Homo sapiens: one gene and its partner. The protein of the gene in region 1 purifies or fractionates together with the protein of each later gene. This does not show direct contact. Each region holds a gene or a part of one and is shown in the gene's direction. Other genes may lie near its edges.

Region 1 (3,500 bases):
TCTTGACCTTCATGGGGGTCTGGGACAATCCGATCTCCAAGCATGGAGGAAAGGCAATGCCTGGACCACTGACTTGCATTGAAATCCTTTCTTGTGGGCTAGGGTTTGATGTCTCTTTTTCATCTTTGGACTGGGGATCTGCATCTTCCAGGTCCATTTAAGCACTGAAACTAGATGCAAATCTCTTTCGAGACCTTACATGTTTTAGATAGTCATGTAATGACTTGGATAGACATTTAAATAACTTGTTCCAAGGTCGGAAGAGCCCAAGAACTCCTCAGAGTTCCTCTTCTTGCTTCTTGAATCACATCCTCTAAAGATGACTCATGTCTCCATAGCAACTGTTAAAGGTGCTGCCTAGACGGGACCCGCTCCCACCTTTACTTACTTTGCTCGAAGGAACCAAAACAATGTCCTTGTGTAAAGGGGCTGTCATATCCAGTTTTCCTTTGAAATCTGGCCCCCAAGATCCTGCTTCTTTCTAACCTGGCAGCTGTCATGTCCCTTCAAGATGATGTGGGAAATGGCCCTTACAACTTGGGAACCACAGAAATTGCTGTATTTCGGGAAGATTCACCTCTAAACTGAAGGCTTCATTCTGATAGTGTCTGCCCTCTCTACCCTGATTTCGCCCTTCTTTGCTTCCATTTTTAGCCCAAGGCTTTGAATTTGATTGAGTAAGACTTAGAGGCAGTATAAAGAACACCATAAACTTAGGCAGAGGTCCCTTAGGGTCTCTAGAGTTGAAAATAATTCTACAGCCTTAGGGGGACCTCTTGGCATTGACTCTAAAGGGAGAGAATAGCCCCTGTGTCCTGGCATTTCAGTCTAGACCTTCAAGGACTGTTCTCTCTTGACAGGCAAGCAAGCAAAGAAAGTTTTGCAATAGATTTCAAGCCAGTTTTTCCATTCAAACCAAGATGCAAATTCATAAAATTACTCTTTTCCTGGAATAGATCCAGGCAGCTGCCTTATTAGAACTTTAGATTCGGATCTATTTTCTTAACACACATACACATACACGCGCATACATACATATACAGAGAGATACGTGGAGAAAGGAAATTTACTCTATCATTGCAATACTTCAAGAAAGAGCTGTATTTTGCCTTTCTGTAATCTCCAAGATAGTGTCTAGGAAAGTAATAGTATAACTATAGGGATACCGAAACAGGAAAAACCAGCCATCACTCTTGAGAAAGTTTGAGTTCGACTCACATGGGAGAATCGAGGTCTGCTACTCGTCTTGCTTTGTGCCCCATCTGTGCCTGGATGCCCTACTACATCTGCTTGACTCGTCTGGGCTGCTAGCCGGGGTGTTGTGGCTGACATCCTTTCCTGGCCTTACACACATAATAGACACATCCCTAACGGCGTGTGCCTGGTCCAGCCACATACAGCCACCACATGTGTCACACACTGTCCCCCTCATCCATGTGGACTTGACTGGCATTTCAGCAGCTCCACTGGGATGCTCTAACCCCAGTGTGTGGAGTTGGGGTCCCTTCATCTAGGTTGACCCAGGTATAGCATTTTTAGCATTGCCTTTCCAGTCTTGATGATTCATTCATTGAACTCATTTATTTCTGGAGCCCCTGGTACACTCCAGGCACTGCGCTAATTGCCAGCAAAGCACAACTGAACTAAATCCACCTTCAAGGAACCTAGCCATAACGAGGGAGGCAGCATGGAAGTACCCTACAGGGGAAAGTCCTGAGTGCTGTGGGAGCATCTCACCGTGGCAGCCAGCCCAGTTTTGGCAATCAGGGGCTTCCTGAAAGAGGTGACATCAAAGCCCGGATGTGTCAGAGGACTGAGGGAGAGTGTTACTAAAGGACTTTCAGGCTGAGAGGATAGCACAGGACTCAGCCCAAAGGAGGGCCAGTGTGGACTGTCCAGGGCCAGCCTGCAGTACAGAGGCTGGAGCTTGGACTTGTAGAGGGAGAGAGAAGAGCAAGGGACGTGGACGGGGCAGTGAGCCAGGCTAGCCACAGAGGGTTCCCGGGGCTTTGCTGGGGATTCAGGGAGCATAAATAAGAGCTTTAGGTGGTGCTGTGTCCTCTGCAGCCCACTGCTGAGGTCCTCCAGACAGGTAAGGTGTGGTCACAATCAGGGCCGGGGTTTCCCTGCTCACTGCGGCAGTGCAGGGGTGCTTGCTGAGATGATTCATCCCAGGGTGTCCTCTGTCCCTTACCCAGCCCCAACTCCTCTTCCTCTGCCAAAAGCTATTTGAATTCAAGGACTTTAACCTGGGCCGGATCTGGTTTGGAGACAAAGGGGACAGCTCTGGGTCAGCATGACCTTCTTTAGAGCCACTAAGGCGAAAAATACCGTTTGGGACCAGGCTGGCCTAGACCCAGGGATGAGAATGCACCCTAAAATAAATATACGGGAAGCAGCAGAGGGCTTCCCTGTCTAGTGTGTGATCCTAACTAAAGGCAGCTCTCTTGGACAGCCTTCCCCTGGATTAGGTCACATACACCTGGTGGCCAAGCCTCTGCTGGGTCCCAAATACACACCCGAGTCCTGCCAAAGAAAGGAGATTTTTAAAAAGCACAGACAAATTGTATGCAAGTGGAAAATACCCATAGGCCTAGACAGCTGTGGAGGGAAGACCTCGTGGGTACCTGGAGGCTGCCAGAGCTGGGAGCTCTGCAGGTATGAGTCAGGGAAGGCTCAGAGACAAGCAGAATCTCTCTATGGAGACAACTTGCAGTGCCTTTTAGGTTTTCCAAATAACCTCGGAGTTCAGAGCATTGGGTTTTTTTCTCCCCTCCCCACCCCCAGAAAAATAATTAGAAAAATGTTTAGGAGAAAGGAAAAGAATTAGATGCATCAGAATACCAGCTATAAGCCAACACTGTTTCCAGAAACTCAAGAAAAAGCTCAAACAGAAGACAGTTCCCCTGAGAGGCTGGAGGCGTTGGTGCTGAAGGCAATTTTCCTAGCTAAGGGGCACTGGGCCTTGCTGCACCTTGGGGCTGACCTTTTTTGCAAAACACCCACCCCTGCCCTCCTGGCATACTCAACAGCAACGCCAGCTTTCTGGACCCTTGGAAAGATGTTAGCTCAAACACCCACTTTTTCCAGATCTTCCTCTTGCTCTTCACTGAGGAATTTGTAATTCTGAGGCTAGCGATGCCCACTCGGATATTCCGCAGGCCCAGGTGTTTAGATTAGAATTTGTCCAGCGGTAATCCTGATGCTGGAAACCAACAAACATTTGGCCTCATATTCACCCATTTAAAAACTAGAGCCCCTGGCAGGTCCCCTTAGGGCCATGTGTTCATGGAATATAAGCCAAGTTTGCCTTAGGCTTGTTCATGGAATATAAGCCAAGTTTACCTCTCCCCATTTTCTGCCCTGGCCCACTTCCCACTCACCTCCACCTCATTGCCAGGAAGGGATCAAAATGCCTCCATGCCAGTTGTTAATGGCTACATATTTGCCCTTCCCAAGGGTATTTGCATTTTATTTAGGAACATGGCCTTATATTCAAG
Region 2 (3,500 bases), on another chromosome or scaffold:
AAGGCTTTTTATGACCCGCCTCTGTAGGATTATCATATGCCCAGTGGTACTGCATGAGAAGAGGTGACAGTAGGCAGGGAACAGACTGCAAAAGGCCTTGATAACCTCTTCCATTCACATTGGTCATCTTTCTGTTTTTTGAACTAACCAAGCTCATTATTCCCTTAGGACCTTTGCCCTAGGTCTTCCCTCTAATGAAAAGCTCTTTCAAGCTTTCTGTGGCTGGCTCCTTGTCATTCAGGGATCAACTTCAATGCATCTCCTCAGGGAGGTTTTCCCCAACCACTCAACTTAAAATAGCCTCACAGTCATCCCTTACTACATCATCCTACTCCTTTTTTCTATAGAGTACTCATCACCATCTACTTATTTTCTTGATTGATTGTTGTCTTACTCCATTAGAATGTAAATGCCACTAGAGTGAGGAACCTTGTCTGCCTTGTTTCTTCTGTGTCCTCAATGCTAGAATATACCAATAATAATGTATTGAAAAAATGAGTTTCAGAGGCTTGGAAGCATGAAACAGGCTGGGTTCAAAACTGCCGGAGTGTGGCTGGGTGTGGTGGCTCACACCTGTAATCCTTGCCTTGGGAGGCCAAAGCAGCAGGAGGATTGCTTGAGGCCAGGAGTTCAAGATCAGCCTGGGCAACATAGTGAGACCCCAACACTTAAAAAAAAATAGCTGGGCATGATGTCATGTGTCTGAGTCCTAGCTATTCGGGACGCTGAGGCAGAAGGACGAGGAGTCTGAGGCCGCACTGAGCCATGATTGTGCCACTGCACTTCAGCCTGGGCAACAGAGCAAGACCCTGTCTCTTAAAAAAAAAAAAAAAAAAGAACTGCTGGAGTGTGAAGTGTTGAGGCTGGGTAGGCAGAGTGGTCATCAAGGGCCAGGCAGAGTTCAAATCAAGAGACCACTCATAAGCAATTCTCAGGAGCATGGCCTCATCCTGTAGTAATGATAGCTATTATCCAGTGGTACTGCACGAGAGGGGGTTACAGTAGGCAGGGGACAGATCATGAAATGCATTGGCAAGTGAGAAACAGTATCTTTTCAATGAGTTTCTGAAATACCTTCTAGGAAAGCTGAATACTGTCTACCTGTGTGTATCAAACAATTTTTAAAATATATTATTAGACACACTTCTTTTCTTTAACTCATTATGCTTCTGTTTCACTCTTGGTTAGTTCTATATGTGGGTTTTATGCTTTAAAATCTGTAGCTCATGGCATGTGTAGAATCTACCTGGACTACATGCAAACTCAGTAAGGCAGAGGTTCAGAGAGCCAGCCTGTTTACACTTTTTACTAGGCCATGCCATATTCAGTTACTGCTCTTAATCCAGACCATCCACCCCATTTGGCTTCTTTTATTTCTAAAGCTGTAAGCAAGGTGTCCTACCATCTCTGTACTTTACCTTTTTTTTTTGAGACAAGAGCCTCACTCTGTCACCCAGGCTCAAGTACAGTGGCACAATCTCGGCTCACTGCAACCTCTGCCTCCCGGGTTCAAGTGATTCTCATGCCTCAGCCTCCTGAGTAAGCTGGGTTTACAGGCGTGTGCCACCATGTCTGGCTAATTTTTGTATTTTTTGTAGAGACAGGGTTCCACCATGTTGGCCAGGCTGGTCTCGAGCTCCTGACCTCAAGTGATCTGCCCACCTCGGCCTCCCGACGGCTGGGATTACAGGTGTGAGCCACCGTGCCTGGCCAGTCTCTGTAGTTTTCACTTGATTGTTCTGTCAGAAACTCCTTTCTGCCCTATGGCTAATGGAAAGTTGCTGAATGTGTTCTGAAAAAAGCAATTTTGCATTCAGCATTTTATAGGTTGGATAAAAGGATGGGATGGAGATGGTGGATAAGGGTTGCTTGCACCTCTGGGAATGGTGGAAAGATACTGAAAAGGCTGTGGACTCAGTGACCTGACAAGCTGTTATCCTGTATTTGTGGTGCCTAACATTGGTCATAGTTTTGTACTTACTCTTGAGGAAATATACATGATCCTGTCTGAATTTGGCTATGTATCTTTTAAACCTAGTGATTCAACTCACAGTAATATTAATATTGTGTCAAGTCTTTTACACTGTGTCATTTGTAGACACCATCTGGGAATTGCCATCTGGGACACGAGATCTTGGCTTTTCTACAGAAGTCGTGTCTTTGGGTTGGCCGCACCATATGTTATCACTGTGTGAGCTGAAAGTAACCATTTGGTATGATGCAGCTAACATTCTGGTTACGTGTACCACCTCCCTTCAGTCACTTTAAAAGGTGATTATCTGTTTCTAACCTGATTCAATAAGTTTTCTTCTCTGGTTTTCCTTTTTAATCCATTCAGCCTCCTTTGGAAAATCTGGCAACTGTGGAAGAGACTGTTGTTCGTGACAAGGCTGTGGAGTCCCTGAGACAGATCTCCCAGGAGCATACTCCTGTTGCTCTGGAAGCTTATTTTGTACCTCTGGTGAAACGCTTAGCAAGTGGGGATTGGTTCACCTCTCGCACATCTGCATGTGGTTTGTTCAGCGTTTGCTATCCCAGGGCATCAAATGCTGTTAAAGCAGAAATCAGACAGTAAGCCATGGTATTTTTTTGCCTTGTTAAAGCAGAAATCAGGTAGTAAGCTATGAGTTATTTGGGATTACTGGGGACTTGTAGCTGACAATTTACATAGTACCTTGTTACCAATGAGTGGCTGATACTAGGATAGTAGGATTTATGACATCTTTCTTTTTTTTTTTTAAGAGATAAGGTCTTGCTCTGTTGTCTAGGCTGGAGTGCGGTGGCACAATCATAGCTCACTGCAACCTTGAACTCTTGTGCTTAAGTGATCCTCCAGCCTCAGCCTCCAAGTAGCTAGGACTACCGACATACACTACTGCGCCTGGCTAATTTTTAAAAAAAATTTCTGGCTGGATGCAGTGGCTCATGCTTGTAATCCCAGCACTTTGAGAGGCTGAGGTGGGAGGATTGCTTGAACTCAGGAGTTCAAGACCAGCTTGAGCAACATAGTGAGACCTTGTCTCTACTAAAAAGAAAAAAATTAGCTGGGCATGGTGGGACCCGCCTGTATTTCTAGCTACTCAGAAGGCTGAGGTGGGAGTTCACTTGAGCCCCCGACAAACAACAACAAAAATATTTTTGGCATATAGATAGGGTCTTGCTATGTTGCCCAGTCTGCTTTCAATTCCTGGCCTCAAGCAGTCCTCCTACCTGGGCCTCCCAAAGTGCTTTGATTACAGGTGTGAGGCACCATGCCTGGCCTATGATGTCATTTTTTATTATCCAGTTGAATATGTTTTATTTTTGTTACTTCTATAAGTAGAAGCTTAGTCACTGATTATTGTAAGATAAAACCTCTAAAAGTCTGTCTGTGTGTATGGGGGGCAGGTTTATTCAGTGTTATTTGATGGGAAATACCTTCATTGTTTTATGTTGCAGGCAATTCCGTTCCTTGTGCTCAGATGACACACCAATGGTACGACGTGCTGCTGCTTCCAAAT

Evidence for each region. Proteins that work in one complex are often made in the same cells at the same time.
Region 2: the proteins of C1orf21 (region 1) and PPP2R1B purify together in Homo sapiens (affinity purification with mass spectrometry; one large-scale study listed by BioGRID and IntAct). This does not show direct contact.

The regions. Positions count from the first base shown.
Region 1 is NC_000001.11:184,624,529-184,628,028, forward strand, and holds part of C1orf21 (uncharacterized protein C1orf21), read left to right. Parts: 3' UTR 1-3,500.
Region 2 is NC_000011.10:111,759,890-111,763,389, reverse strand, and holds part of PPP2R1B (serine/threonine-protein phosphatase 2A 65 kDa regulatory subunit A beta isoform), read left to right. Parts: intron 1-2,338; coding exon 2,339-2,571; intron 2,572-3,438; coding exon 3,439-3,500. UniProt on the Homo sapiens protein: The PR65 subunit of protein phosphatase 2A serves as a scaffolding molecule to coordinate the assembly of the catalytic subunit and a variable regulatory B subunit.